Homo sapiens: one gene and its partners. The protein of the gene in region 1 interacts with the protein of each later gene in a pairwise test. Each region holds a gene or a part of one and is shown in the gene's direction. Other genes may lie near its edges.

What was found.
Region 2: the proteins of HES6 (region 1) and TLE1 interact in binary tests that used the Homo sapiens proteins (3 or more experiments, as listed by UniProt).
Region 3: the proteins of HES6 (region 1) and RAB2A interact in binary tests that used the Homo sapiens proteins (3 or more experiments, as listed by UniProt).

What each region holds. Positions count from the first base shown.
Region 1 is NC_000002.12:238,235,463-238,246,429, reverse strand, and holds HES6 (transcription cofactor HES-6), read left to right. Parts: upstream 1-6,391; 5' UTR 6,392-6,524; coding exon 6,525-6,605; intron 6,606-6,682; coding exon 6,683-6,769; intron 6,770-6,861; coding exon 6,862-6,943; intron 6,944-7,178; coding exon 7,179-7,603; 3' UTR 7,604-8,163; downstream 8,164-10,967. Other genes in the region: PER2 (period circadian protein homolog 2), read left to right, coding at 1-55. UniProt on the Homo sapiens protein: Does not bind DNA itself but suppresses both HES1-mediated N box-dependent transcriptional repression and binding of HES1 to E box sequences.
Region 2 is NC_000009.12:81,581,518-81,590,822, reverse strand, and holds the end of TLE1 (transducin-like enhancer protein 1), read left to right. Parts: coding exon 1-18; intron 19-712; exon of another isoform or gene 713-1,315; intron 1,316-2,946; exon of another isoform or gene 2,947-2,994; coding exon 2,995-3,142; exon of another isoform or gene 3,143-3,148; intron 3,149-5,167; coding exon 5,168-5,318; intron 5,319-6,298; coding exon 6,299-6,375; intron 6,376-6,517; coding exon 6,518-6,625; 3' UTR 6,626-7,140; downstream 7,141-9,305. UniProt on the Homo sapiens protein: Transcriptional corepressor that binds to a number of transcription factors. Inhibits NF-kappa-B-regulated gene expression. Inhibits the transcriptional activation mediated by FOXA2, and by CTNNB1 and TCF family members in Wnt signaling.
Region 3 is NC_000008.11:60,508,852-60,520,201, forward strand, and holds the start of RAB2A (ras-related protein Rab-2A), read left to right. Parts: upstream 1-8,135; 5' UTR 8,136-8,356; coding exon 8,357-8,402; intron 8,403-11,350.

The sequences.
Region 1 (10,967 bases):
CAAAGAAGACGAAAATGGATCCCCCTTGAATCACAGGATCGAAGAGCAGACGTAACCCCTGCCCCACCTCAGCCCGGCAGCCAGCGAGGTACACCAGGTGGTGCTTGGAAGAGATGAAAGATCTTCATGGCTGTTTCCACTGAAATGGACACATATGCTCATGTTGCTTTTTTTGTTTTAGAAAAAAAAACAACATAGTTTTCTGAAGGGGCGACTTAAAACTGTGGAGAGTGGGGAGAGTTCGGAAAGAAATATGTTTTTATATATAAAATATATATGTGGAGTTTTGTGGGATGGGGAAGAGATTTTAGTTGTTATTTAACTTGAGAAAGACTAAGCGCCTCTTAGTGTCAGGGAAGTTGCCTCAGTGCTCCCAGAAGTCCTGTGACTGTGACGAGACCTCTGTCTGCTGCACCAGCTGGGGACTCTGGCTTCCAGAGCTTTCCCAGGGTGTTTGGATCAGATCAAATTTTGTCCTCTCTTGGGGACTGCTTTTTATCTGAATTATCATTTAGTCAAGGTAGAGTGTTTTTTTATACATACCAAATGGAGATAGCAGCCTCTCCTAGTTTTATTTCAAAACGTTTCACATTAAATGGTGTGAAGCGTTGTTTGGCAAACCAACAGCTTTGGCTTCTGGTGTGGTCAATATTTCAGTCTGACATAGGTTTTGTTTGTAGTGAACAAAGTTGAAACATTTGCTCTGGACTAAAGAAGCCTAGTGGTTTGTGTGGCCAACTCCATCGGATGAATGCACACGCAGACAGACCCTCTGTATATTTCTGCATTATTCTTGTCTCCTTTTCAGACCATGATGGCCAATATGGAGATTAAAATATGTCATCAGTCATCTCTTTATGGTGACTTCCCTTTGCAAACCAGGCTGTGACCAACACATGTGAGACCCAGTCCTGTTTGGTTTTCTTCCGTTGGAACCACCCAGACATCTGCTTCCACCCAGCCAAGCCCACATCACATCTCCTGGCCGAGAGCAGCCACTGCCACTCAGTCTGACAGCTTGCGACTGCATCTGTATTTTCAGGGGTGCAGTGAGCTCACCTCTCCCACTGCACCCTGGGTTGGGTGCACAGCCCTCATTCTTTTCATGAGCCCGACCTCTCTCGGAGCAGCTTCAGGCCTCTGCCAGTGTCCCCAGCACTTTTAGGTCATTTGGACACTTGGGGAAAAGTGAGGCCAGTCTGCCCGGCTTTTTACAAAACCTCATGTTGCATTGTATATTCCAAAGATGGTTCAGAAAATTTAATATTGGTCCCTGGTGGAAATTCAAAGTTATCACTGAAGAACAGTTGACTTAAAATTGGACCAAGACTATGAGGCTTAAAAGGGACCAGGGTTTTCTTTTTTTTTTTTTTTTTTTTTTTTTTTTAGATGGAGTTTCTTTTTGCCCAGGCTGGAGTGCAGTGGCGCCATCTTGGCTCACTGCAACCTCTGCCTCCCAGGTTCAAGCGATTCTCCTGCCTCAGCCTCCTGAGTAGCTGGGACCACAGGCGACTGCCACCACACCCAGCTAATTTTTTGTATTTTTAGTAGAGACAGGGTTTCACCATGTTGGCCAGGCTGGTCTCGAACTCCTGACCTCAAGCGATCCACCCACCTCGGCCTCCCAAAGTGCTGGGATTACAGGCGTGAGCCACCACGCCCAACTGGGACCAGGGTTTTCTGTTTTTTGATGGAGGTGAAATCTCTTTGTAATCCACTAGGTTTTCATCGTAAAACCATCTTATGCCTGACTATTAAACCTATTCTTCATAAACACAAGAACACTTTAATTTTTCGTTAATTTACAAAGTAACATCAGCTGCCTATGCCTATGATAAGGTAGCAGTCTGCATTCTTATGGCCATTAGATGTTACAAACTCCTTGCCTCTAAAGTCAGATCATGAAGGGATAGGTGTTCATCTAAGGTTACAGTTATGTTACCGAAACACAAAACTGCCAAAATCTTACTCTGCTGTTATGAATGTTTACCATCAGCATTATTTTATCATTTAATATGTGCTCACTGATTGTTAACTGTAGCTTCAGCGCGTGCCAAGCAGTTGACTTAATAGGATCATCTTGTGAATTTGTTTACGTGATGCCAAGCATCAAGTCATGTTTTCTTTAGTGTGTGTGCTTACACAGGTGTTAAACAGTTTTTCTCTATTTTAAACTGAGCCTTCTTTTTAATATATTCCCGAAGAGATATGTAAATAAGCTCTCAGAGTTTCTGTGATGATTTGTTGAGCCTTGCTGGACAAGTGGTTTGTTTGTGTGCAAACCAAACTTTCTTTACCCAGTGCAATAGATTTGTTTGACTGCTTGTGTCTTTTTATGACCTGTTTGCCTTTTAGAAAATTGGTAAATAAAGCAAGTATATTTTTATTTTTACTTGTATGTATTTTTCACATAGCACAAAGGAAAACCTGAATAGAGAGCAAAGATTATTTAAAAAAAATTTTTTTAAAGAACTCCAGGAATTCTGCATTAAAGAATCTTACATCCCAAAGGCCTCCTGGCGGTCAGCTCCCTTATAGCGTTTGCTTCTTGCTGGCTCCCTTTCTTCCTGTGCGTGTCACACACACACCCTCCTTCAGGCTGCAGGAGTGAACTCACGTAATGCAAACCTAATCGTGTCATGCCCCACAGTCTTTTCACTTTTAGTTGGAGGGGTGCAGCTGTCTGGCTCAGCCCCAGAGTGCCCCCAGCTCTGCCTCCACGCACCTCTGTCTTCCCTGCATCCCTGCCCTGGGTTACCTGGCCTTTCCAGGCTGGCTGCCTGTCTTCTGGTCATCGGGCTAGGTAGGGCTAAAGGTGGGGCGGTCAGGAGGCTCCACCAGGAAGGTCACATGTCTCCATTGCGAATGATATGGGCAGGGCGGCATAGTCCCCTGACCCCAGCCCTTCTTTCACAGTGATGAATGAAGCCTTGTGAGGCCAAAACTGTGGAAGCCCGAAGAGTTGCTCCCCATCCCTCCCACTCTTCAAACCATGACCCTGGGGGTGGGAGCAGAGAGCTGAATGGATCCTGAACCCAATGCCCAGCCTCTGAGAAGCTCCCTGAGCAGAAGGGAGGGGCTCTCCTCTGCCTGCTAGCCTGGCTGCCTAACGCCAAGTGCTGATGGGATAAAAGGCAAAGTCCTCCCTAGCGAGCACAGAGGCCTCTGCAAACTGCTCTAAATGGCCAGATATGGTTGTTTCACTGAACCTGAGTGCTTTTGGAAGACTCTTAATTGTATTTTTATTTACCATATAACCCCAAGGGATTTATTTCCAAACCAAACGGAGATTCTCTGAGTCTCCTGGGCAGATTGCCCACAAGGGGCCTGGACAGTCTACAGGCCGCAGCTGCCTTTGTTCCCCCAGGGATTTATGGCCTGCCACCCCCACTGCTAACTGGTATCCCCGCAGCAACCACCACCCTGCCCAGCCTCTGCTGGCCTCTGTTCCTGGCTCTAGGGGGATCAAAGGACTCAAATGCTCAGGAAGTCCATACTCAGGCAAACTTTGAAGGCAGGACTGGCCCAAGGGACAAATGGCAGGAAGTGTTGGCTAGGGGAGGCTGCTGTGAAGGAGGGAGGGAGGGCTTGGTGACCTCAAGATAGGCCAGGCTTCTGGGACAAAAAGGCCATGCCAGCTGGCCAGTGCACCGCTAAAGGGAATTGAAGCTGACCTTGCAGAGGGGACCTTGGGCAACTTCCAGTCCAACCAAGAAGGATTTTGCTGATGTACAGCCTTCTCTACTTAAGCTCTTTTCCCTGTAGGATCCTTGGTCACACCGAGGCATATCCCAGTGCTTAATTTCTCCCTCCCTCAACTCTAGACAGCATTCCTCAACCCTCCACCCACTCCACTGTCAGACAAGGCTTTTGAGGTCCCTAGTCCTCCCTTTAGCCTCCTCTCTCATAACTCCTATCACCTGTCCTTTTGTTTTTACAAGGTCAACTTTATATCATGTCCCATAACCATAAACAATCCTTCCTTGCCTTCTGTATAGATTAATTCTAAATGTTAAAACCCTATGAACACTGTTACATTGTTGTGACTGTGAAAATTGTCTCCTGAGCCAAGTAATGTGCTAAGATTACATTTCTTGGGAAGCTTTTTGTTTTTCCTAGAGTTCCTAGTTGCTTTTCTTTCTTTTTTTTTGCTTGCACCATTTGCCTTTATCATGTCCTCCTTGCCCCTCAAATCCAGTTCCCCATCCAATCAAGTGTTCAGTCAGGCTTTACCCAAAGTCCTCTTTTGGGGCCCTGATCATCCTGTTGCAATATAAATTGCCTAACATAAAGCAGATGTTTTAGGATGAGAGCATCCTAAAACATCTACTTGGCCTTGTTCGTTTGGATAATGAGAGGAGTGTAAATCAGTTTGCAAACTTGGGAGTACAGGAAATATCAGTGAGTTTATTTTTCCCTATCACAGTTTCTCGAAGTAGTGGAAATGTCATTGTAGCCACTTGGGGGAGTGGAGGTTCTCCTTCCCTGGGGTGATGTCTAAGTGGTGAAGGAGAGTAAAGTCACAGGCTAATAATCCACTTCCTTGGGATCCACCACTCCAGCCCCACCCTGCCAGCCCCACTACTGGGCAGGTGGGGAGTGTGTGAAGTAAAGCGGTAGTTTCACACCCAGGTGAGTGATGCTGGGCTGGGGGAAGTCTCAGGACCCTGCTCATAGAGCAACCAAGAGCCAGAGCAGGGACAGTTGGGAGCCAGCGGGAGGGGGTCCCAGGTAATTACAGAGGTCAGTGAGGTGACTTTGGGAGCTTTCAAACCTCTCACCAAACTCACCCAGCAGGAAGCCTGCAGGGGTCCCTCTGGTGGAGAGGCGCAAGTAAAGGGGCCATGGGAGGCCTGTCAGACCTCTCTAGGGGCAGTGGGGCGGTCGGTCTGCAGCCTAGTCCTGCCGCTCCGCTCAGCTGCTGCGGTCCCGTGATGTTCCCCTCCCACGCGGCCTTCCAGCCCATCCTGCCAGGGCCACCCCTCACCTTCCCTACCTACCAGCGCTTCTGTGAGGCCAGGCTCTGCTGGGGGTGCGGGGAGGTGGACAGGGGGTCCTAGGTCAGACTGTGCCCTTGTCCAGGGACGCTTATAGCCTGGAGGGGCTCAGAACAGACCCTGACGATCCCAGCCCGGGTGAGTAGTGGGGACTGAGGAAGGCAGGTGCTGTGCGGGGCAGGCTGGTAGTCGGCCGGCTGGGGTCCGAGAAGGCGTCTCCCGTTCCGGCTCCTCCACACAGCGTCTGGACTGACGCCGGGGCAGGAGCCGGGCAGGGGTCCCCAGGACGCTGCCCGAGGGCGCGGCCCCACCGCCCACGCACCCCGCCCGCGGCCAAGAGGAACCCAGCAGATGGGCGGCCCGCCGCGATGGGGGAGTCGCGGGCGTCTGGCCGGGACAAGCGCCCGCCGCCTGCCCGCCGGACAAAGGGTGCGAGACAAAGGCGCGGCCAACACCTGTCGCTCTTGGCGCGGCCGCCGCTTTTCTCGCTTTTCTCCGCCGAAGCGGCCGCAGCTGCCAACTGTCACGGGCATCAAGTTACAGGACCAGACGGCAGCTTCGGCGGGCCTGGGAGGCGGGGCGCGGAGGACGAGGAGGGGAGGAGGGAGGCGGGCGGGGGGCAGTGGAAGGGAGGGAGGGGGCCCCGGGGGCCAAAGGGGACTAGAGGGAGATGGGGGAGCTCAGAGGGGGGCGGGGCTGGTGACCCGCAGAGCCCAGGGGGAGAGCGGCGCGGGCGGGAGCACCCGGGACCCCGCCCCACTAGGACTCCAGTGCTGGCGGAGGGCGGCGTCGGGGGTCCGGCCCGGCGTCTGGACGAGTCCGGAAGAAACTCAGGGGCCGCCCCGCCACCGCTGCCCAATGGACCCTGCCTCCCCGGGGCTTGGCAGCCACCCCAGCCGGGACCTGAAACCCCTCTAGGTCCAGAGACCGCGGACTTGACTGTGGCTCTGCACACCAGGGACGCATCTCCTGGGGCCAGTGGCCCCAGCGCTCAACTCTGGAGGCGCCATCGGCGAAGGAGGGAAATGAATGAATTAATGGGTGAATGAATGAGTGGACGGACGGACGGACGGACGGGTGGACGCCTGCTCGCACGCGCGGCAGATCAGTGGTCCTAGAGCAGCAGACGGAGAGAAACAAGCGCGGGCAGGGCCGCAGCTACCCGGGGTCGCCGCCCCGGTGCCGCCCCCGCGGGGGTCTAGGGAAGGCCGGGCTGGGGGCCCCGCCTAGCTCAGCCAGCTGCCCGACCGCCAGAGCCGCTGGGCCGGACAAAGCGCGCTGCCCCGATTGGCTGCAGCGCGCCTCGCGGTCGGCCGCCCCGGGCCCGCGCGGCCAATCGGCGCATTGAGATGCAAATAAGCGGCTATAAAAGGGGCGGGACCGCGGCGGGCCGGAAGCCGCGAGGAGCGCGGACGGCTGGGCTGCTGCTGGGCGGCCGCGGGGCAGCGGAGGGCGCCGGCACTCCGGTCCCCGCCGCTCCCCGTCCCCGCTGCTCCTAGCCCCTGCCGCGTCCCCGGCGGAGCGGGCATGGCGCCACCCGCGGCGCCTGGCCGGGACCGTGTGGGCCGTGAGGATGAGGACGGCTGGGAGACGCGAGGGGACCGCAAGGTGCGGGCCGGGGCCATGGGCGAGCAAGCGGGCGGGAGGCCGTGCGGGGCTGGGATTCAGTGCCCCGCTCCCCGCAGGCCCGGAAGCCCCTGGTGGAGAAGAAGCGGCGCGCGCGGATCAACGAGAGCCTGCAGGAGCTGCGGCTGCTGCTGGCGGGCGCCGAGGTGCGGCGGCCGGGCAGGCGCCGTGGGGCTGCGGGGCGGGCGGGCGGGTCCGGGAGCGCGCTGCCGGCTCACCGCCCTTCCCGCCCGCGCAGGTGCAGGCCAAGCTGGAGAACGCCGAAGTGCTGGAGCTGACGGTGCGGCGGGTCCAGGGTGTGCTGCGGGGCCGGGCGCGCGGTGAGTGGCGGCGGGGCGGGCGGGGGCGCCGGCCGCGGGCGCCTGTAACCCCTGCCAGACGGAGGACTTCCCTCCCGGCGCCCCTGTCCTGTCGGCGGCGAGGGCTCCCACCGGAGCAGGGTGCGCCCCCGCGTCTCCTGGGTGAGCCGCGTCCCCGCGGGCCGGGTGGGCTGGGCCACGCAGTCGCCGCTCACCGCGCGGGACGCGGCTCTCTCCCTCCCACCCTCGGGCCCAGAGCGCGAGCAGCTGCAGGCGGAAGCGAGCGAGCGCTTCGCTGCCGGCTACATCCAGTGCATGCACGAGGTGCACACGTTCGTGTCCACGTGCCAGGCCATCGACGCTACCGTCGCTGCCGAGCTCCTGAACCATCTGCTCGAGTCCATGCCGCTGCGTGAGGGCAGCAGCTTCCAGGATCTGCTGGGGGACGCCCTGGCGGGGCCACCTAGAGCCCCTGGACGGAGTGGCTGGCCTGCGGGGGGCGCTCCGGGATCCCCAATACCCAGCCCCCCGGGTCCTGGGGACGACCTGTGCTCCGACCTGGAGGAGGCCCCTGAGGCTGAACTGAGTCAGGCTCCTGCTGAGGGGCCCGACTTGGTGCCCGCAGCCCTGGGCAGCCTGACCACAGCCCAAATTGCCCGGAGTGTCTGGAGGCCTTGGTGACCAATGCCAGCCAGAGTCCTGCGGGGGTGGGCCCGGCCCTCCCTGGATCTCCTCCCTCCTCCCAGGGGTTCAGATGTGGTGGGGTAGGGCCCTGGAAGTCTCCCAGGTCTTCCCTCCCTCCTCTGATGGATGGCTTGCAGGGCAGCCCCTGGTAACCAGCCCAGTCAGGCCCCAGCCCCGTTTCTTAAGAAACTTTTAGGGACCCTGCAGCTCTGGAGTGGGTGGAGGGAGGGAGCTACGGGCAGGAGGAAGAATTTTGTAGAGCTGCCAGCGCTCTCCCAGGTTCACCCACCCAGGCTTCACCAGCCCTGTGCGGGCTCTGGGGGCAGAGGTGGCAGAAATGGTGCTGGGCACTAGTGTTCCAGGCAGCCCTGGGCTAAACAAAAGCTTGAACTTGCCACTTCAGCGGGGAGATGAGAGGCAGGTGCACTGAGCTGCACTGCCCAGAGCTGTGATGCTCTGTACATCTTGTTTGTAGCACACTTGAGTTTGTGTATTCCATTGACATCAAATGTGACAATTTTACTAAATAAAGAATTTTGGAGTTAGTTACCCTTGAAGTATTGTTGAGTGATGTGTCATTACTGTGTCAAGATATGTAAATGCTAAACTAAGCACATTTCCCCTGCATCTGAGGCTGGTGAATGTCCTTTAAAACCTCACCCTTTCTCAGCAGAGTGAGCAGTGTGATGGTGGTGGGGATGCACTCCGTGGCTGTCTCTGCAGCAGGCAGTGCTTCTGCCCCCCATGCTAGGCAGGTCCTCAGACCCAGCCTGTTCTTGGGCATTGTGTGTCCTGGAGAAGGAGTTTGTTTGCATGAGGCTTGTCTCCAGGGTAACTCAGCAATAGGGAGATGACCTGTCTCTGTGCCATTTTCTTGTTCATGAGCTTCAGGAATAATAAAATAATGCCTAATTGCTACCTATTTGGTTTGAAAGTATCTTTTAAAGACCTGTTTTAGGACCCACGAGCATGACATAGACATGAGTCTACTTGTGTGAGGTTGTTGCTTATCTTGACTGAAGAAGGAACTTCCCCACTGCTGCCATTGACTTCAGGGTCAAGGAGACCCACCCAGTTTGTGGCCTGAAATGAAAGCGCCAAGGCCCCAGGGGGCTTGAGCGTTAGGTCAAACTGGGTCCAGGAGGTCAGAACCCTCAGGGATGGAGGGTGGCAGGATGGGCAGCTGGGGTGCGGGAGCCTGCCCTCTTGGGCTCGGCCAGACCTGCAGATAGCACGTGGTCAGCCGGCTGAAGTCACCGCCACAGTTAGCCTAGCCCCCTCCTCCTGCTCCAGGACCCCAAAGCAGCAGCTTCTCACTGTGGGTTGGCAGTCCCCAGGCTAGGGCCAAGGTGTGACAACTTAGGATTGACGTCGGGGTCTCCTCTCTGGACATGTGCTTTTGCCTTAAGAACACCTTTCCCAGCAGCCCCTTTACAAAAGCCCCCAAGCAGGTCCTGGCCACCAGGGGTGTTTCAAAGTTTGAGGTTCACTCTGGCTCACCTCAATTCAATCATAGAAGCCATTGGGCTATAACCAGATGCAGCTTTATCATCTGGAGCCGAGCTATTGGGGCAGTGGGGGAGCCAGTGCCACAGAAGAAGTCTTGAGCAATGGAAATATCATTCCTGGGATTATTTTAATGTCCTCAGACAGGCTGATGTAGGATGTACCCACCAGGACACGGATGGATAACGGGCCATCCTGAAAGCCCTGGTTTCCAGTAGCACCCAGAGGCCATGCCAATGAGCTCTCATGCCATTCAGGGAGCATCAGCCATGGACTGCTTCAAAGGAACAACTTTCACCTCTCAAGTCCACTCATCACACCTTCCCAGATGCCCTAGGAGGGGGTCAAGGGGAAGCCCAGGAGGCAAGGTGCAGGAGGCTGACCTGGAGTAAAAGCGTTGCTAGGACCAGAGTCAGAAGCCACTAACCCAGAACTCTGGCCCTGTGCCCCTCCAGCCCTAAAGTCAGCTTCACAGTAATCCTCAAGTGCAGCTTCTTTTGGAAATGTAACTGGCTCCCACACCAGTGACCACTGTTGGCCTCCTGGGGCTGAGAGCTGCTCTTGCCTGCGGTGCAGCCTGGGGCCACCAGCTTCCCAGCCAGCTGGTTGTTTCACACCAGCTCCTCTCCCAGCACCCCCAGGCTCCCCACAAGCCCTTCTCTGAGGGCTGTCTCCTTCCCACCCGGATCCCTTCTCTAAGGGCTGTCTCCTTCCCACCCGGATCCCTTCTCTGAGGGCTGTCTCCTTCCCACCCGGATCCCTGACCCACTGTATTACTTTTCTATGGCTGCCAAAACCAACGACCACACTCTTGGTGGCTTCAAACACACGATTATTGTCTTGCAGTTCCACGGGTTAGAAGTCTGTCAGGATTCACTGGGCTAAGATCAAGGTGTTGGCAGGCAGGGCTGTGTGCCTTCTCCTGCCTCTTCATTCAGGGGCCACCCACATTCCTTGGAGGATGGTCCCTTCCTCCATCCTCAGAGTTCCTCGGAAGCATTGCGTCTCTCTGACCCTTCTTCCTTGGTCACGTCTCCTCCTTACTTCTACTTTTAAAGATCCTTGTGATGACACCAGCCCCCTGGAGAATCCAGGATAATCTCCCTGTATGAAGGTCTTTAGCTTAATTCTTAATCACATTTGCAAACTCCCTTTTGCCATGTAAAGTAGCATATTCGCAGGTTCTGGGAACTAGGATGTGGTCATGAAGGACATTCTCTGTGACACCTGCCTGCACCCTGGCCCAGGCGTTCTGCCTTCCATCATGAAGCAGTGTGGCGCCCGCTTCCGACATGGGCATGGGCCCCCATCCCTGCTCACCTGCTCAGGGACTCTGCTCTCCACTGCACCATTAGCTTCTCCTCCCTTCTGGATCATTCTCATTAACCTACAAACGGGCTGTAATATGAATACCTTTACTCGGAAGAACCTCCCTGGATGTGACATACTGTTAGCCTCTGTCTCAATGCTCTAAAGCAAAATTCCTTGAAAGCGTCATCTACACTTACTGCCTCCACTTCCACGCATCCCATTCCTCTTCATTCCTTTCCAATCAAGCTATTGTCCACCCTTCCACTGGAACTGCACAGTCAAAATCTCTAGTAACGAGCATGTTTCCCAACCCAGTGGGCATGTCCGCATGTCAGCTTCACTTCTCGTGGGTTATGACTCATCCATCTGGAGGCTCCTTCTCCAGTCTCAAGGGCACCACACCAGCCTTCTTTCTACCTCATCGGCCATCCTCAGTCCCCTGTACTCAATGCTCCTCCCTGCCGACCTCCAACTGGACGTGTTCTTCCCAAGGCTCTGTCCTCAGCCTTCCCTGCCGCCCTCCAACTGGACGTGTTCTTCCCAA
Region 2 (9,305 bases), on another chromosome or scaffold:
CAACCAGACACTAGTGAGGTGAGCAAAGATGGTCGTCTAAGGAGGGGTTCGCTTCTTTAGCAGCTGGGCCTATCACCTCTGCTTCTCTCTGGCTGCCTGCAGCCCACACAATAAGAGCCTCTTGAATGCCAGGCATGGGGCTAGGTGATGAGGGAACAAAGACAACTGTGTTGCTGCCTTTGGGGGGCTTACAGTCTTATTACTATGCCTGGTGTCACCCGAGACTTTCTATCTCCTTAATGTGCCAATTCTTCAGCCCACATACAGACTCCAAACTTGTTCTAAAAATATTTCTGGCTTTTGCCAAGGGGTGGCCTAATGTGGATTACACGGCAGCACAAAAGGCCCTTGATACTAGATGTTTTGGGCTTTGGCTAGAACTTGGTGCAGACAAGAGCCAACTGATAAAAGATAACAGAAAATCAACAAAGGGACATGAGAAGAGGAGATTCTGTGAATTTTGCCTACAAAATGATTTTAAAGTATCTCAATAATGAAATAGACCTGCCCAGGGGTGGTTCCACCCAGGAGCCCGCAGGGCTCTGCCTGGCCTTCTGGCATCAGCCCTGTCACCTTAGCAGCAGCTGCAGTTCTGGTACCCATGTGTCTCTCCTCAGCTCCCCCGCCAAATGCTCCCTTCAGAAGTCAGTGCTCACACCAGAGCTGTTCTCAAAAAGTCTTTTTAAAGTAAGCATGAATGAAACATGAAAGGTAAAATGAGTACATGTTTTACTCTTGTTTCATCTTTGCTGGGAAGCCGTCCCTGCGGATGGTGCAGTTTGGGGTCTGTGGCTTGTTTGGTAAGTCCCCTCTCATGCTGCACAGAGAAGGGACGGGCTCCAGAAGTCATCATGACAGCTCACTCTCTTCAAACCTCCGCTGTAGAAATCCATGAAGTGTCATTGAGCCGGGCCCGGTCCCTGCGTGTGGGTGACAGTGCGGCAGTTACTTTCCTCTTCTGTTTGCTGGGTAGTGTAGGTGAGCAAAATGGAATGATGGAGCCAGGGCCGAACGCCCTCTCCACCTTTTATCCTAGCAAAAGTTACTTGTTTTTTTCTTTTTTTAAAACTCCATAAGTAGCACTTTCAAAATATCAATTCTAAGCACTTTTCAAATATTCCTCCACTTAGTTCTCATAACGTCTGTCCTGCTATTTGCCCCATTTTATAGAGGAAGTGCCTGAGGCTCAGAGAGGGTAAGTTACTGGCTTCAGGTCACACAGTCAGATGTGGTGGAGCCAAGTTGAGGCCCAGGCATTCTGCTCTCGTCTGTACTCTGAACCCTTGCTCCGTGCCGGCTCCTGGGGAGTAAATACCTGTTGGATAGAATGGGGTAGCGTCTTACAAATCTTTCTCTGGACCACTCACAGGTGGCTAGTGGCTGCTGCATGTAATAGGGCCATGTAAAGCCTATTGAATGTCTTTGTATCCACTGTAACCCAGCACGTTCTGAACAGTCATAGGATGTGCCTGAGAGTAATGCTGGAGTATAGTATATGGACGGAGAGAGGGCAGAGGGATGGGGGAGCAGCTGCCAGGTACTGTATGTCAGCAGAGGAAGGTGTTTTCAGTCAAGGAGGAACAGCGTTTCATGAGTTAGAAAGGTCAAAAGAAGTCAGAGGGTCACTGGATTTCCAGAGCTGTTTGAAGGGAAGGAAAGCAACACTTTCACCAAGTGAAGCAGGGACTGCTCCAGGCCTGGGTGTTCTGTGGGGATGTCTGGGAAGCAAGCGGAAACATTGGAGGTCCAGCTGCACGGCCGCAGGAGAGAGGACTCAACCTGGATCCTAAAGTGCAGAAGTTGGGGATGGCTTGCAGAGAGAAGATTTTAAAAGTGATGGTTCACGTCTTGGCTTAGAATTTAGGGCAGTAGTGGTGCTTTTTCCTTCCCTTGCACTCTTTAAAATCCAAGCTCAGGTTAAAAGTTTGGAGCTCTACAGGAATGATAAGGTGTGGGGATCCTGGAGGAAGAAGCAGCATGGTAACTTTCTTCTCAGTGTTGAAATTCCCACGCAGTTCTTTACTGGATCCCGCCTGCTTCTGAGGGTGGGTCTAGACTTTGCTCGCCTTTTCTGGCTGCCTCCCCCACCACCTTCCTCTCAGCATGCAGAACTGAGTCCACCAGTCACCGTCCCTGCTGGGGCTTACACTGACCTCCCCTCAGCAGCTCTGCTAGTTGCCTTGCACAGCATCTGTGCTCAGCAGATCCCTGTTGGCTGATCGTTTCTGATGGCGATTTTTGAATGAAGCACAAGGTTCTTTAAAGAACAACCTTGTGCTCCGCTTGGAGGCAGAGTCTTGCTGAGGTGCCCGTGGGTCTGCCTCAGCAATTACCTGTGTCTCTGCCCAATGCCTCTGAGGTCAGGAGGCCGGCATGCGTGACCCTTTGTCTCTGGGAGTCCAGATTTCCTAATGCAGGGCTCTTTCTAACACAGAAAGCAAGGTTGAGTAAATACATGAGCTCATGCTCTGTTGGCACGTAGGGCATTGCTGTGTTGATTCACTCATGGAAACAGGAATGCTTCTGTACACCCTGTGCTTGTAACGTCCCCATTTCTTTCTCTCACGGACTCAGGCCTGCACGATTAAAGAACAGACCTTTATCTTCCCATAAGGAATACAATCGGGATTTTGTGTGTTTGTCTTTTATTTTCTATTTAACAATTAAACACTTTTCCAGACCTGGAAAGAATTTTACCTTCCAGACGGTTTTGTCAGAGTAGCATATTTAAGTTCTGGGTAGTGACCTGCAGTGGCATTCCATTTCTTTAGCACTTGGATCGTGGAAAACAGGGAAAGACAATCGCAGGTGCTGTTTCCCCTCCTCCTCAGGGGAAGGTTAGTTTGATCTTGCACATCAGCAGACACTGGCGGGATCACACACACACACACACACACACACACACACACACACACGGTCCAAAACTAACAACACAACAGTGTTTACCTTGAGCTCTGGCAGGAAATCATTATTCAATCTGGTTTGTTTTATCAGGCAATTCCAGGGCCACACAGACGGAGCCAGCTGTATTGACATTTCTAATGATGGCACCAAGCTCTGGACGGGTGGTTTGGACAACACAGTCAGGTCCTGGGACCTGCGCGAGGGGCGGCAGCTGCAGCAGCACGACTTCACCTCCCAGGTGACTGAGTGGCTTCCGCCTGCCCTGGAGTCTGGGAGGTGGCTGGGGTGTGTCTTCCTCCTCACAACCCTCCCTCCTTTACCCTAGGATGGTAGTGGCTGGACAAACAGATCAGGGCTGAATTTGAGATAACTAATTTAAAAACAATGACCACCACCTCCTCCTTCACGACCCTCCCCCTACCTTCCCCAAAACTAGAGTGGTTTTTAGAATCCTGTAGGTTAAGGTGTGTTCTCTGTTATATTTACATATGAGTTTGTTTAAGGGATTTGTACATTGAAGAATGTATAGTTTTCCTTCAGCAGTGTTTGATCTGTGGCACATATTCTCACCATCTAATGCAGGAGTAGGAGATGATTTTTTGATTCCTAAATAAATAGAACTTGAGAAATCTGCAGAATGTCACTAAGAGTAGAGAAAAGTCACAGCTCCTCTGAAAGTTCATTTATTTACCCCGCACCAGAGAGCTCAAAAAAATGCACAGATACCTCAGTGATACCCATTTTATTCCTCATCCTTTAAAAAATGAACTGGTGGCTGACTAGATTTGCAGACTTTTGAAATAATGTATAAATGGCAACTTTGTAGATTGTGAAAAGTATTTTGATGTCCAATGTCTGAATGTAGACTTGTTTTGGAAAAAACAGTGTTTGCCATTTTAAATGCTTTCTGGTGGTAGAATTGTTCTTTCGATCATGACTTGGCATTTATTTTTTACCTTGTTTTGTAATAAAAATAATTCTACTCAGAAAACTAGGACAGAAACAGAAAACAAGCATATATACTTCTAAATTTCATATTCCTGTTAACATTTTGTTGAGTTTCTTAGAGTCTTGCTGTTTTCACTCTTTCCCAACATAAGCAGGATACAATTTTTGTTCTGCCTTTTTTTAAAACTTCTTAGAGAAATTCTCAAATACATATGAGTACAGCAAATGTCCAAGCATTTATGAAAGCACAGAGAATTGTACAATAAATGCCACATGCCCATCGCTCAGCTTGAAGTTATTTGGCCATATGATAACTCTCGTTCCCACCCCCAGACACTGGATTATTTTAAAATAAACTCTAGCAGCATATCATTGTATCCATAAGCACAGCCATGCACCATATAACCTTTTAGCCAAGGACAGACCGCATATGTGACAGTGGTCCCTTAAGATTATAATACTATATTTTTACTGTACCTTTTCAATGTTTAGATGTATCTGGATGTACAAATACTTCCCGTTATGCTACAGTTGCCTACAGTATTCAGTACAGTAACATGCTGTGCAGGGTTGTAGCCTACAAGCGATAGGCTCCACTCTCTAGGTGTGTGTAAGTGCACTCTCTGAAGTTCACACAATAAAGTCACCTAACAAGGCCAGGCACGGAGGCTCACGCCTGTAATCCCAGCACTTTGGGAGGCCGAGGCGGGTGGATCACAAAGTCAGGAGATCGAGACCATCCTGGCTGGCACGGTGAAACCCCGTCTTTACTAAAAATACAAAAAATTAGCCGGGCGTGGTGGTGGGCGCCTGTAGTCCCAGCTACTTGGGAGGCTGAGGCAGGAGAATGGCGTGAACCCAAGAGGCGGAGCTTGCAGTGAGCCGAGATAACGCCGCTTCACTCCAGCCTGGGCGACAGAGCAAGACTCCGTCTCAAAAAAAAAAAAAAAAAAGTCACCTAACGACACATTTCTCAGAATGTATCCCCCTTGATAGGTGATATATGATCGTATTTCAGTTAGTGTCTCTAAAAGGTAAAGCCTCCTTTAAAATGTACAGATGAATGCCATTATTATTAGGAATCATTTCTTAATTTTATCCCAAAAGACAGAGGGGTTCAAATGTTTCCAGTTTCCTAAAGGTTTTGACACTTGGTTCATCTGCGTTAGATCACTTGCCCTGTGGACCTCCCCACAGTCTGGACTTGGCTGATTACTTCCCCCCATTCTTGCTATTTCCCCACTTTTCACATTGCGTCTTCCCTTCCTAAGTGTATCAGGCGGAATAATGAGTGAGCCTGTCTTGCTCCTTGTAGATCTTCTCCCTGGGGTACTGCCCCACCGGGGAGTGGCTGGCAGTGGGCATGGAGAGCAGCAATGTGGAGGTGCTGCACGTGAACAAGCCTGACAAGTACCAGCTGCACCTGCATGAGAGCTGCGTGCTGTCCCTGAAATTTGCTTACTGTGGTGAGTTCAGCCGAAAGGAAACTGGAGGCCGTTGATGGCCCAAATGGAAAATGCTTCTTAAAAAAATATGGTAGAGATCATAATCTGGAAAAAATGTTCTCCGAGCAGCTGGATGCAATAATTCTATTGTTTTAATATGCCCTTCAGAGCACAGCAATGTCTGTTTCAGTCTGTTTTGCTAATTTGAGAAAAGTCAGCAGGCAATGTGATTGCCTAATACACGGTTTGGACACAAGTTTGTTTTGGAGGGGTTGGGAGACGACAATGAGTTTCTACTCTGAAGAGGGGTGGGCGGGAATTTATTGAAGAATGGAGCAGGGGCAGTGGAAGTCATTATGAGCTGGCCATGATGAGGAATCCAGGGTTAGAGAAGTCGATATTTAGGTATACGCAGACACTTAGTTACACTCTACTCTACAGTGAGGATGAAGAGGGAAGAAGTTCATGTGGTGACCCTTCTTGTGTGCTGCAGATGGGCAGATATCTGTTCACAGTATGCATAGATGGATGGATGGATGGATGGATGGATGGATGGATGGGTGGATGAGTGCCTATCACTTATTGAGCATTTTTCTTCATGCTATATGATGTGACTGGCATTTTACTTAAGTTGGATGTTTAATCCTTTAATTCCCATTAAAGATGGGAATCTTTAATCCCATTTTATCATGAGGAGACTGACTAAAATAGAACACATTCTTCATTGATTTCTATATTTGAGGGTTACCGTGTGTTGGATATGATGCTACTAGTCCTGTATCCAGTGACTAAGGAGGCTGATACCTCTTAGATTATACCCAAGATCACTGATAAATCACTGAGGAGCCCAGATTAAAACCTCTGTTCATATCATGGACCAGTCCTTAGGGCATGATAGTTCATATATTAAAAATGTTCTTAGTTTGATTAAGTCCAAGTTGCTAATTGTATAGTAGGAATTTTAACCTTGTGAAAACTAGATATTCCTTTGCTAATTCTAGGTAAATGGTTTGTGAGTACTGGAAAAGATAACCTCCTCAATGCTTGGCGGACCCCCTATGGAGCCAGCATATTCCAGGTGAGTAAGTACTCCTCACCTAGATCCACAGTTTGACCACAGTGTCGCCTCTGAAGCCAGGAGTGAAGGTGCCTCCGAGGGAGCAGGGCCTCTGAGTACCGTTGTTCCACATTAAACACATGTCCATTGTTTTCTCTTCCAGTCCAAAGAGTCCTCGTCAGTGCTTAGCTGTGACATCTCTGTGGATGATAAGTACATAGTCACTGGCTCGGGGGACAAGAAGGCTACAGTCTATGAAGTCATCTACTGAAAACATTATGTGGTTTAACGTTTATAGTTGAATTGGGCCAAAATGTTTCGAATTTATAGAAATAGAAAAGTTGTAACTTTAAAAGAGAAAAAAAATTACAAACACCTGTTTCCAAACCTTGACAGAAAACTACTTTGAGTCTACAAAGAGGAGGCGACAAGTCCATCAGCAGAAAGTCACCTGTCTACATAGACCAAATGGAGCACCAAGGCCAAGCGGACAGAGGGGCCATGGGTTGTAGGATTGAGGAACGGAATCTGCCGACTCACATGACAGCCCATTCTTTCTTTCTGGGTGATCTGGGGATCACGCCTTGCCCAAGTGTGAGATTACCTTTCTGTTCCTTGCAGTTCACCTCACTTTCCGTCCTTTGTAGAGCAGTGGTGTCTCCAATGAACTTGTTTCCTGGTTTTGCATCTTGTGAAATGTTTTTTTGTATTTTTGTTGAAGGTTAAACATTTGTATAAATTGTAAATATATTTGGTTTATTACAGTAAAGGCTTTAGTACCAATAAGTGGTTTTCCTTTTCTTTCTTTATTGTTTTTTATTAAAGCTTTGGGATCATCAATGTGGGTTTTATAAGCAAAGATTATACATTTGTAGAGGAAGTTTTGAATTGCACTGCTTATTTTATAAATATATTTGGTGGTAGGCTCCCATTGCATTAGAACCTAATCCTTCACAAGCTTGAGTTACTGGGAGCTCAAGACTAGGAATTGTGAGTAATTGAAGGTTTACTAATGACAGTTTTCTTTAGGAAAGTAAAATTACTTCATCAAGATTTGTTCTTTTGTTATGATACTATTGTGATTCAAGGTCAAAGATTAAAGCTCTACTTTTTTCTGGTGATTCATTGGAAGGCAAAATATTCCTTTTTCTAGGAAGGCCCAATCTCCTCTTCCTTTTCCCTTTCTCTTTCCCTTTCTCTCTTTCTTTCGTTCTCTCTCTCTCTCTCCTTTTTTTTTTTTTTTTTTTTTGTTTAAAGATTTGAGTTCACATTGTTTGTTACCCAGGTTGGAGTGCAATGGCATGATCACATCTCACTGCAGCCTTGAACTCCTGGGCTTAAGCAATCCTCCCACCTCAGCCTCCTGAATAGCCAGGCTAATTTTTTTTTTTTTTTTAATTTTTATTTTTTGTAGAGGCAGACTCTCACTTTGTTGCCCAGGCTGGTCTCGACCTCCTGGCCTCAAGTGATCCTCCCGCCTTGGTCTCCTAAAGTGCTAGGATTAAAGGCATGACCCACTACATGCTGGCCTCAGTAGTTTCAAATCTGTATTCTCTCTCTTCACAAGCTTCACTTGGGTTTTGTGTTATGATCTATGATACACAGAAAGCTGCAGAGTTCATTAACCTGTAAAAGGTGGAAAGTCAGCTGGTTTTGTCTTCATTAATACTTATTTGGTCTATTATATTAAGTTACTTAAGCCAACCATACCCATCACTTCTCCGCATTCTTCTCATTAAGGCCCTCCCTGCAGCTCTAGCCATTATTATCTATCATTAGTCTTTGGTCTTTATCTTTGTGGACATGCTTTTACTAATGTGATTAGATGAAATCTGTAATCCTGGGCTTTTAATAAGTTACCATCCATGTTTCCTCCTGAAAAAGCTACATGGCTTATTTTTTATATACTATATACTATTATACACCATTATTTTCTATTATTTTATAAAATAATAGCTAATAAATTTAAGGCAGTGTTCCCGGCTGTTTAAAAATAGCACCTAAGGAATTTTTAATGTTCTTGTTCTCTTATGATCCAGCGAGTTGTTGGCAGTTTGTCTTAATATTTTTCATTTGTTACCAAGACCTTGTTCTTTATATATTCAAAAACATTACTTTGTTTGCTTTTTGCCAAAAAAAAATGTTTATATACTGAGTTAAATATTTTCACTTCTCATTAAGTGAATGGCAAACCCCCATTACTAAAGCTGATTATGCTGTCATCCCTTCCTTGTATAACGAAGTAGGTTTCTATCTGACAGACTCAGATGGCTTGTTAATGGAGTAATGGAGTGTTTATCTTTTCTGTTCTCTCTCCCTCCCCGCCTTACTTCCCTATTTTCTCTAATACCAACAATGAAGTAGCTTAAAGACCATTAGAGTTTGTCTCCCTCCTACCTGTGACCCGGAGACCCAGGCCCACAATGCAGCTCTGCACTTGTAAGGCCTCTCTAGTTGCCACCACTTCCAGCCAGCAGTGGGGAAAGAGCAGAAGTCCAGGGAAAGCGATGTGTTTTTAAGCAGGTGACTAGAATTTGTTCCATCACTTTTATTTGCCAGTCCGTCGGCAGGGAGTTTGTCACATGGTGGCCACAAGGGAGACTGGAAATGCGATGTCTTGCTTTGCAGCCATATGCCCGTGGAGAAGGGGGATGCATGTGTGTGGGTTAAAGAGATACTCCCGTTTTCTGTTAGTGGATTTTCTCCCTTCATTTTCCCTCATACTTTATAGTTCCCAAACTTGTGACATTCTTTCTGTAACGGTATTTTTCTGAAACTTTTATCAACTCATAGATCATCTTGAATCTGATGAAGCCACTTCTATTTGATTTTGGAAGAGGCTCTGACTGTGTTGGTGGCAAGAGTCCTGGAGATGACTAGTGCAAGCCCAGCTACAGAAGGGTTAGAGTCTTAGGAAATTGCCCAGACAATTGAGTGTTTCCCACTTGGAA
Region 3 (11,350 bases), on another chromosome or scaffold:
GAGAGATCAAATGTTTATTGTTGTTTCAAGGCTGTGCAGTATTTTCTCATAATCTGAACATTTGTAGAGGTTTCTGAGAATTGATCTCCAGATTCCATACATTGGGAAATTTAAAACAGCAGTGGAAGTACAGCAATTTTTCTTGCCACAAACCTGAATTAACCTTACAGATTTTTTAATAGGAGCCCTGAGATATAATTTTACTTTTTGGAGAATATACTTACCCTTTTAATAGCTTAACTTTTCTTTTTTAGAATAAAAATGTTTGGAAAACTAGACTCCTGTTTCTCCAGATTAGAAATGAAATTTGATCCTGTGGTGGCAGTTTTTCTCTCTCTCATCATTACATATGTTAGAAATTCTGATAAGGAGATTGTTAGAAGCAGAGATAAAGATTATATAAAAGAGAGAGGAGACAGAAAAGGAGGTGAAATGTAATCTCACAATTCCCTGCACCACTTATTTATTTCCTAAAATCTTGTCTCACACAAAAGACATCAGAGACAGAAAGTTTTCTCTGTCCACATCTCCCATAGGGACAAAGATAGCTTACCATTTCTTGGAAAATAAAGAAAAAATGAATTTTTCTTTACCAAAATTTAAACACCATTAGGGATAGAGGTTAAAATTAATTGAGACATCTGTAAGAGTAACAAGTACCGCTACTCTGGGTACATTGCCCATGGGGTAGCCCTGCTCCACAAGAAGCAGTAAAGCTAAAACAAACAAACAAACAAAAAATAAAAAAAGAGTAACAAGTAGTTCTCTCTTTAGCACCATGTGAAGTATATTTTCATGATCCCATTCCCATTCCAATCCCAAATTTTCCAAAGCAAGGAACACCTACTATTTAACATAAAACATAGGACATATTAAAGACAAATGAAGAGTAGGGTTTGAAACCGTTGCAAGATCTGGTCTCCACTGACAAAAAAAAAAAAAAAAAAAATTCAACAATGTAGATGATAAACTACTACCGACTTTACCTGGTTGTGTAGGAATTGTTCCCTTAATATACTTGGATACATTTGTAGAAAATAAGCCACCTGCAACTTGGTATATATATACTCTCCTAGCAATAATGTACTTTTCAGAGTGTCTTCACATCTATCGCTAGAAATGCTATTATGTAAGTAACCAGAATTATTATCTCTTTTGAACAGATGATGAAAGTTTGAAGTGGACTTTCTCAAGGACAGCTAGTTAGTGGCAAGGAAGAGACTGTAATTCAGACTTTCTGGAATCCAAAATGGAGCCTTTCTCCTGACCATTGTCTCTGTTGAATGCACTAAGCAAATCTCTAGGACTTAGAAAAAATAATTAATTTAAGAGTATTATTCTTGTTTTTAATTCACTTTTAAGTTCTATATGAATTATTAATTCAATATCTATTATATAGTGGTTTTTTTTTAAGATAGGGTCTCACTCTGTTGCCCAGGCTGGAGTGCAGCAGGAATGCAGTGGCACAATCATTGCTTACTGCAGCCTCAAACTCCTGGGCTCAAGGGATCCTCCCACCTTAGCCTCCCTAGTAGCTGGGAATGCAGGTATGAGCCACTGTGCCCAGCTTATATAGTAATTTTTTTAAATAGTTAAAAATAATTTTTAAGGCCAGGCAGAGTGGCTTACATCTGTAATCCCAGCACTTTGGGAGGCCAAGGTCGGAGGATCACTTGAGTTCAGGAGTTTGAGACTAGCCTGAGCAACATAGCAAAACCCCATCTCTACAAATAATTATTATTTTTGAGACAGAGCCTTGCCCTGTCACTGAGGCTGGAGTGCAGTGGTGCCATCTCGACTCACTGCAACCTCCATCTCCTGATTCAAGCGATTCTCCTGCCTCAGCCTCCCAAGTAGCTGGGATTACAGGCACATGCCATCACACCCAGCTAATTTTTGCATTTTTAGTAGAGATGGGGTTTCAACATGTTGGCTAGGCTGGTCTTGAACTCCTGATCTCAAGTGATCCACCCTCCTCGGCCTCCCAAAGTGCTGCTATAACAGGCGTGAGCCACTGTGCCCGGCTATACAAATAATATTTTTAAAGTTAGCCAGGTGTGGTGGTGTGTGCCTATTGTCCCACGTACTTAGGAGGCTGAGGTGGGAGGATCACTTGAGCCCAGGAGGCTGAGGTTGCAGTGAGCATGATTGCACCACTGCACTTCAGCCTGAGCAACAGAAACCTCATCCCCCCCAAAAATAAACTTTTTTTATGCAGACAAGGTCTCACTATTTTGCCCAGGCTGGTCTTGAATTCCTGGACTTAAGTGATTCTCTCACCTCAGCCTCCCAAAGTGCTGGGTTTACAGGTGTGAGACAGCATGCCTGACCAAATAGTTATATTTTTAATGCAGTATTTTATAAAATTGGCTTATTGTTATCCCAATATTCATTGTTTCTGTTCCATACACTTATATGAGTACTTTCTATTACTAATGACCAGTCCATTGGTATAAAGAATAGCCTACATATAAAAGAAACTTTTTTCTCCCACCTACACACACTTTGACTGAGGATGTGAATTTGCTGTCACTAATTTTTGACTCTTCAAGTAGCTTTCTGAAGGATGAGCAGAACGGAATGGAAAAGAGAAAACAGTCACTTCTGGCTTCAACATGGAACCAGATTATTGAACCAGAAACAATGAATATTTGGATAATAATAAGCTAACCAGAAATAGGTCATGAGTGGAAAAGCAAAACAAGAAATATTACTAAGAATGTTATCCAACTAGACTAGAAATGGCATATCAAGTAGATGAGAAAAACCAAGTACAATAAGGAGGGTTGTTGAAGCACCTGGAATGACTACGCTAAGACAATAGCTATAAAAGATAATGCCCTTGAAGACCCAGCTTAAAAGACTCTCCCTCTGCAAAACCTACCCTCATTTCACCCCCAAAAAATTGTACTCTCTAAAATAATAGAGCTCCTCTCCTGTAGCCTTCATCAGGCCAAAGTTATTTATGACTTAGCACAAGACAACTCTCCTTTAAGGCAGGGTCCTTGTTGGGCTCATTTAACTCCTATGGTTTTTTTTGTTTGTTTGTTTTTAGAGACTGAGTCTCATTCTGTCGCCCAGGCTGGAGTGCAGTGGCACAATCTCAGCTCACTGCAACTACCCCCGAGTTCAGGTGATTCTTCTGCCTCAGCCTCCCAAGTAGCTGGGACTACAGGTGCGTGCCACCATGCCCAGCTAATTCTTGTATTTTTAGTAGAGATGGGATTTTGACATGTTGACTAGGCTGGTCTCAAACTCCTGACCTCAGGTGATCCACCTGCCCCGACCTCCCAAGGTGCTGGGATTACAGACATGAGCCACTGCGCCCAGCCTCCTGTGGTTTTTTGTTTTTTGTTATTGCCAGTTGTGAGAGTTGGGGCAGAGGGAGAGATATATTTCCTTTGCAGCTACAGTTCTTATTAACAGGTTGAAGGTGGAGGAGGACAAGGAGGAGAGGAAAGGAAGGGGGAAACAACCTCAATGTTTAAGAAGTGTCCTCTGTGTGCTTGACATAGTGCTAGACATTTTATATATGTCATCTCAGAGGGGAAACTAAGGCTTAGAGCATTTAGTAATCTATCAAAGATCACTCAACTGATGTTGAGTGGTAAAGTCAGGATTTGAATCTAATTATTTCTTCTTCCAAAACTGGTACTGAGTTCCGGTGTGGTGGTTCACACCTGTAATCCCAGCACTTTGGGAGGCCAAGGCAGGTGGATCACTTGAGGCCAGGAGTTTGAGACCAGCCTGGTCAACATGGCAAAACCCCATCTCTACTAAAAATACAAAAATTAGTCGGGTATGGTGGTGTGCACCTACAGTCCCAGCTACTTGGGAGGCTGAGGCATGAGAATCGCTTGAACTCAGGAGGTGGAGCTTGCAGTGAGCTGAAATCGCACCACTGCACTCTAGCCTGGGTGACAGAGAGAGACTTTTTCTAAAAAACAAACAAACAAACAAACTGGTACTGAGTTTAAGTATTTGCTGGAAAATTAGTTCTGTTATGGTACTTGGAGATGGCTGAAGGAAGGCATTTCACAATTGTTCTTAATTATTTCTGGGTCATGGAAGAATCTCTCCCATAAAAGTGTACATGTGCAAATATATACATCATTATCAGTTTTGCATACCATTTCAGAAGGAGTGGCTAAGGAACCATGGAAACCAAGGCAAAAACCTCAAGATTACAGTATTCCCAACCACCTTCTCCCATTCCACTCCACCCTATCCCTCTTCCCAAAGCCTGAGAGTAATTAAAACCAAAGAAAATATAAACATGAAAGTTTAGTTGGGAGAAGCAAATGCAAACTTCTAATATAGTATTGTACTCAAAAATGTCATGGAGAACTTGATTAGGAGACACTGAAGAATGTAGTGCTACAATCTTGAAATTTCACAGTTATGACCTTCAGACCATATATGATGTAAGGCTGAGAGACAGAGTTACCACAACACATCCTAAGAGACTGAAAATAGCCGAAAATCAAACTGAATGGAAAATTCCAGGAAGTATACTATATTTAATGGAAGAGAGGTTTATTTCTGTTATTTTGTCTGGGGGACTTTTCTTGAAAAATATGTTTGGATTTTTATGGGCTAAAGAAAATGTTTTAAATGAGGTTTATGTGATTTTTATTTATACCCTGTATTTTTTCGAAGATTTAAGAGATTATAGGTTTATAGAAAATATAACAAAATATTATGAATCATACATAGGAAAAAAGGTAGAGACATAAAATAGAGCCAGGAACAAACTTAATTTTAAACCATGAATTTATATAGTGATTAGGCCTTTAGTTCCTCAAGTTAATTTCTTTTTTTTCTTTTTAATTTTCTGTAGAGACAGGATCTCACCATGTAACCCATGCTGATCTTCTTGAACTCCAAGGCTCAAGGGATCCTCCAGACTTTGCCTCCCAAAGTGTTGGAATTACATGCATGAGCCACCGCACTCAGCCCCTCAAGTAATTTCCAAAAATTATGCAGTGCAAAGAGTTTTATGTATTAGGTATACATTTTTCATAATTTACACAGTATTTTCACATACATTATCTCATTTGATCCTAAATGGACTTTGTTAAGCAGTTATTATCCACATATTCCAAATAAGGAAACTGAAGCCCAGAGAAGAACTTGAAAATCCTGTTCTTCAAGGTGGGAGAATTGCTTGAGGCCAGTAGTTCAAGACCAGCCTGAGTAACAGAGGGAGTCTCCATCTCTCCAAATAATAATAATAATAATAAATGATATAGGCGTGGTGGCATGTGCCTGTGATCCCAGCTACTCAGGAGGCTGAGGCAGGACAATCACCTGAGCCCAGGAAGTCAAGACAGCAGTAAGCCATGACTGGGTCACTGTACTCCAGCCTAGATGACAGAGCAAGACCTCCTCTCAATCAATCAATCAATCAATCAGAACAATATGCATTTGACATCTATGGCCCCTGCATTTTCACGAGAGGATTACTACCTTCTTTACAGATGGCTTTAGATTTGGAGGCTGGCTAAGCATAAAATTAAAAGACGTCATGCTTGGAATAGCCCTTTTAAGAAACACTTAACTCCTTTACTTAATAGACAAGTGCACTGAACCACTCATAATTTTTTAAATTATTTTTATTTTAATAATTATTTTATTTATTAAGACACAAGGTCTCAATCTATAGCCCAAGCTGGAGTGCAGTCGCACCATCCTAGCTCACTGCTGCCTCAAACTGCTTGGCTCAAGCTATCCTCCCTCTTCAGCCTCCCAAGTAGCTGGGACCGCAGGCACAAGCCATCGCAACCTGTGCTCTGAAGCTTTAAGAGGCCAAACGATTCCTCACATTCATCCGATCAGTTACAGGTAGAGCCAAGACCAGAAGCCAGGTATCCTATTTTCCTTATAACACATTGCCTCTATAGCTTTATATCCATTTCTATGATTTTTGTTACATACCCAGTTCTGACCATTTCCTGTCACAATTTCCTTTGTCTACTAAGTAAAGTTCTAAATGCATGGTGACATAACATACAAGGCCCTACATAACCTGGCACAAGAGACCTCTCCAGGTACTCTCCTCCTCTAACAGTGTAGGAATACTCCTGACTCCTAGGATGCCAGGCATTTGTATAACATCCTAATAGAGTTGTGCTGGTGAAGGAAGGCCACATCCCTCTATCTTGTGAGAGTGAAGACTTGAGTTTCTCCATCACCAAGGAAGACTTGGGTGAAGGCACTCAAGTGGGAGGGACAAAATGACATCTGAAAACTGGAGGCCTTGGGCAGGGACCTCCCCTTCCTCAAACTAAAGGTGAATGAACCAAATTTTGCGATTCCAGGTAGCTTTTCATGTCAAATTTTCATGTCAAATTCTTCCGTGCCATCTCTGACCCTTTAGTAAAATCCCCTCCAAATATTCCAGAAAAACCTTGTGAGTTCATATTTGGCAAGGCCATCCAAAGCATGTTAGCAACCCAGCATGATGGTGTCAGTACTAATTACATAATGAGAGGCCCCAAAGAGAAGAGTATTAGGCAACAGGAACGAGGGCCACTAAATCCCAATCGCTTTTCCCCAGCAATGATTCTCCTTCAATATGAGGTTATGGGTTATGAGGATATGAGTTAGTCAATTAGCTTCCTTATGCAACTTCAAATTCCCTGAACAGATCCAGGAATTTTGCACATTCTGTTCCTTGTCCATAAACTTTGGTTCCCCTCCCCAAACTGTTGTTCTTTCGACAAACTCTATACATAATTCATATTCCTGGCTCAGAAATCATAATCTCTAAGTAACCTTTCCTGACACCCTATTCTCCACCTCCTCTTCCATAACCTGTGGTCTTTTTGAACAGAGTGGTGACATTTTGGGCTGGATGACTGAAAAAGCAAAGTAGAAAAACAGAACATAGAACATACAGGGCCTCCAGTTGCTGTGCCTGGCGGTACATGAAACATAGTATTCAATAACTATTCTTTGAATGCACAGTCATTTTGTTTTTTCCTTTAACAGTATTTCCTAATAGGTAACTCATGAACACTGCAAAAAATGTCAAACTGCACAAAAAAATTCAGGGAAAAGTACATTTTCCCCCCAATCCCATTCCCTCCTTTCTCTTAATACCAGTTAGCTTTCCTTTCAGATTGATTATGCATATATGGGTATGTAAATGTTTTCCCACTATTTGTTACACATAAAAATTATATACAATTCATATATTACATATGGTGCATGTTATATACACACACATAAACAGATCATCTCGGTTTTGCTTAACCTAAGTCAGGCTTTTTTTTTTTTTTTTTTTTTAGAGCAGCCCTCAGAACCAGGACAGGTTCAGAGACTTTATTTATTTTTTATTTACTATTATTATTTTGAGACGGAGTCCCGCTCTGTCGCCCAGTCTGGAGTGCCGTGGTTCAATCTCGGCTCACTACAACCTCCACCTCCCAGGTTCAAGTGATTCTCCTGCCTTAGACTCCGAGTAGCTGGGATTACAGGCGAGCACCACCACGCCCGGCTAATGTATTTTTAGTAGAGACGCGGTTTCGCCATGTTGGCCAGGCTGGTCTCGAACTCCTGACCTCAGGTGAGAGCAACGTAGTACTCCACTGTGCGTGCATACCATGATTTACTTTGCAGTCCCAGATTTACGGTTTCCAATTTATAAATACTGCCATTTTCACCTTCAAGCCCCGATGCCAAACACAGAAATACCAGGCCACCCCCACCCCCTCGCCGTGTGCCTCCCACATTTTCACACACATTTTCAGGAGCCCAGGGCGCAGCCTCACACCGAACGCCGCCTCTGCCGTCCCCTCACTTGCCCCGTGCCCCCACCGCAGGGCTGAAGGCGACGGAACCGAGCCTTTGTACCCCCACCAGCCCCGTTCCCTGGCGTCTCCCGGCCGCCGGGCTCGCCCGCTCAAACGTGGCGGAACAACCGGAGCCGGGCCCCGCCCTGCTGGAAGACAGGGCGGACCGGGCAAGGCAGGCGCGGGGCGGGGCGGGGCGGGGCTCCGGCTGGCGGGGCGCGGCCAGCGTGCAGGGCTGGGCCAGCGTGCGGGGCTCCTCCCCTTTCCTCCGGCGGCGCCGGCGGCCGCAGAACTTCCGGGTCGGCGCGGAGGCGGGGCGGAGGCGCCGCGGCGGCTGTTATTGTTCGGCTGGGCTCGGTCGGGCGCTGTCTCCCTCGGCTCTGCGGGTGTCAGTTCGTCCGGCTTCCTCACAGCCCCTCACTCCCGGCGGCTGACAGCAGCAGCGGCGGCGGCGGGCGGCGCCTGGCGTTTCGAGGCTGAGCGGCACCGGGGTTGGGGCGCGGAGGAGGAGCAGCAGCGGGAGGAGGAGCCGTGTGCCCTGGCACTGAGCGGCCGCGGCCATGGCGTACGCCTATCTCTTCAAGTACATCATAATCGGCGACACAGGTGAGGGCCCCGGGCGCGGCCGGGCGGGTGTCGGCGGCCTCCGGACCCGGGCTGAGGGGCAAACGGCGTCTGGCGGTGGCGGGGACGCGGACTCCACCCGGCGCCTCCCTCCTGGCCGCGCCGCTCCATTTCCGCAGTGCTGGAGCTGGTGACGTGGGCACTGCGAGCGGCCGCGGCCTGGCCAGGCCCGGTCTGCGGCCCCCGACCCGGCCAGTCTTGCAGCTGAGGGCCGTGGCAGCCGTTTGCGACGCCCGATTCAGGAAGTGTGTGACAGGAGGGGAGGCCTAGCGCAGGGCCGCCGGGGCCCGACTCACATGACTGCACCCCACCCCCAGGGCCCCTTGCGTTAGGTCTCTTCGCGGCCCCAGGAAAAAGAAGGAGGGAAACCTAGGGGAGCAGAAGGTGTTGGGGCCCGGGTCTTGGTTCCTGACCAGTCCAACCTTCCTCCACCAGCACGCATCTATCAAGGCCTGGGCAAGGCGCTTTTTGGCGTGGGACAGGCAGCCGAGAAAGAGAAAAGGAAACCTTTAAAATATGTATTTTATATATATACATATATATAAAATATGCTTTTTTAACACCTTCAACTCTCACGTCAGAATAAGTCACATCTCATTACTTGACGGCTGGAGAATCCCTTTCGGGGTTAGGAAAGCATGAACGAGTTCTGTGGACTTTTGCCACGTGTGAACTGGGGTTATATAGTAATGTAAAGTCGTTCAGTGCTCTGGGTGTGTACTTAGGTATGTGTATGTTGAGGACGCTGATGTTTTAGATATGTCAAGTCCGGTGTCACAACTGCTAATTTTCAGGTGAGCTCATGTCCATGAGCTGAAAGAAATTCAGTTATTCTCACTTAAAATGACGTCCTAGTATATTTCACAGAAAAGTAAACAGACTCTTCGTAGATATTTTTAATACCTGTGATTTGGCATTACTTTGAATCTAATAATAAACATAAAGATTGTTTAGATGTTGCAACTATTAATATACCAGAGTCTGATTTCAGTGGTTACTCTTGCACAACTTTGGACCCTTTGCACAACTTCGGTCATGTAAGCAGCAGTTTGTAGTTGAACTAATGATGTGGCAGGTTCTATAAGTAACTAAAGAAGCATGTTGGCCGGACGCGGTGGCTCACACCTGTAATCCCAGCACTTTCGGAGGCCGAGGTGGGGGATCACCTGAGATCAGGAGTTCGAGACCTGCTTGGCCAACGTGGTGAAACCCCGTCTCTACTAAAAGTACAAAAGTTAGCCGGGCGTCGTGGCAGGCGCCTGTAATCCCAGCCACTTGGGAGGCTGAGGCGGGAGGATCACTTGAGCCCGGAAGGTGGAGTTTGCAAAAAAAAAAAAAAAAAAAAAAAAAAAGCATATTTATTGCTGCCTGAAAGAAAAAATTTCTGCTAGATACATGAGTTTTCAGCAAGGTTTTCTGATGCGTGCGTGCGTGTGTGTGTGTGTGGAAATTGGATTTGTAAACTTTAAAAGAAAAATGCTGTGGTGTATTTGGAAGAAGGAGAATTCTAAAGTCTTCTGGCAAAATTTCATTTAGGCTGTAAAAACAAGATTGGAGAGGAATGCCACATTAACTGTAATATGAGTGGGTTTGAGAAATAGAAGCTTGTGACTGTGGCATTTGGCTATCTCATTAGTGGTGAAAATTCAAATCAGACTTTGCTGGTTGCCTTTTTTCAGTTTTTTATTTGAGGCTGTACTGTGGATAAATAAAGTATTGTGCATGGAGTAGTGGGGCTACAAATCCTAACAAGTTAATGCTCTGTTCTCTTGGAATTTGCTCTTATCCAAAAGCAGTCCCCACGCAATTCAAAGGGAAGACACTTCTTTCTTGTCATTGCTGCTGATACGACCTAGTTCAGGAACAGAATTCTTGACACTGTTATAGTCTGCAGCAGTACTTCTCCCTACTCCAGTTCAGCCAGTGTAGTTTACTGTCAGTTTAGTCATCCTGAAGCATGAATGTCAAAAGGCTACTCCTGTTTGCTCACAATTTTTAGTTTGACCTTCAGTGAACTCTATATTTTAGCCCCTATCTACATTTCTCGCCTTCTTTCCCGCTATTCCCCACCTTGCTTCTGCCATTGAGTCCCAGTGACTGATTTTGGTGTTTTTTTCCTGGGCACTGCTAGTCTCTATTCTTAGAGTGCTTTCCGGCACAATCTCTCCCTGTGGAAGATCCATCAGTCCTTCAAAGTCTTATCTGAGTTTTCCGTAATGCCTTCACAGTCAACATATATTAAGCTCTTATTGTGTGAAGATTTTCACAGTATCCTGGCTGAAAGTGACTACTCCGTTTCTGAATTTATGTTTCTCACTTTGTGTCATTCTTCTGATATTGATCCCAGACTTTTCTGTTGTATAGATACTTGTATAGGCACCTCTATTATGTAGGTACCTATTATATACTTCTTGAAGTCAGAAAAGATGTTTTGTATGGCTCTGTATTTCTTTCAGGAAGAGCGTAGTAGAAGGTAGGCCCTGTATATTTAACTAATAAGAGAGGAGCCAAACAGGCTACTATATTCCTGTTTGTATATATTAATAACTTAACAGAAGTGGTGTCGTTGTTGTTGTTGTTGTTGCCCAGTTCTGCCACCTTCTTGCTTACTAATTTGGGCAAAATCCTTTACCATATTTCTTTAATGCAGAGTGTACCCATAGTTGTAAGATACACTCAGTGTGGCCCTCCCCTAGAAAAGATGACTTTAAAATCAGTAATGTGAGATCCACTTTGATTTTTTAAAAAGTCAGGGTCAAAAACATGCATCTTAGAATGAAGGAAATCACCTAATTTTTCTGTTTCCCTGTTTCCGTAACCTATAACCTTCTCTCAGTATGTGGGATAAAATGAGGATAAATGTGAAAGTACTTTGATTTCTCAAAGGAAAGGAACAATGCACATTTTTCCTTTTCAGAATTCCCTCTTTA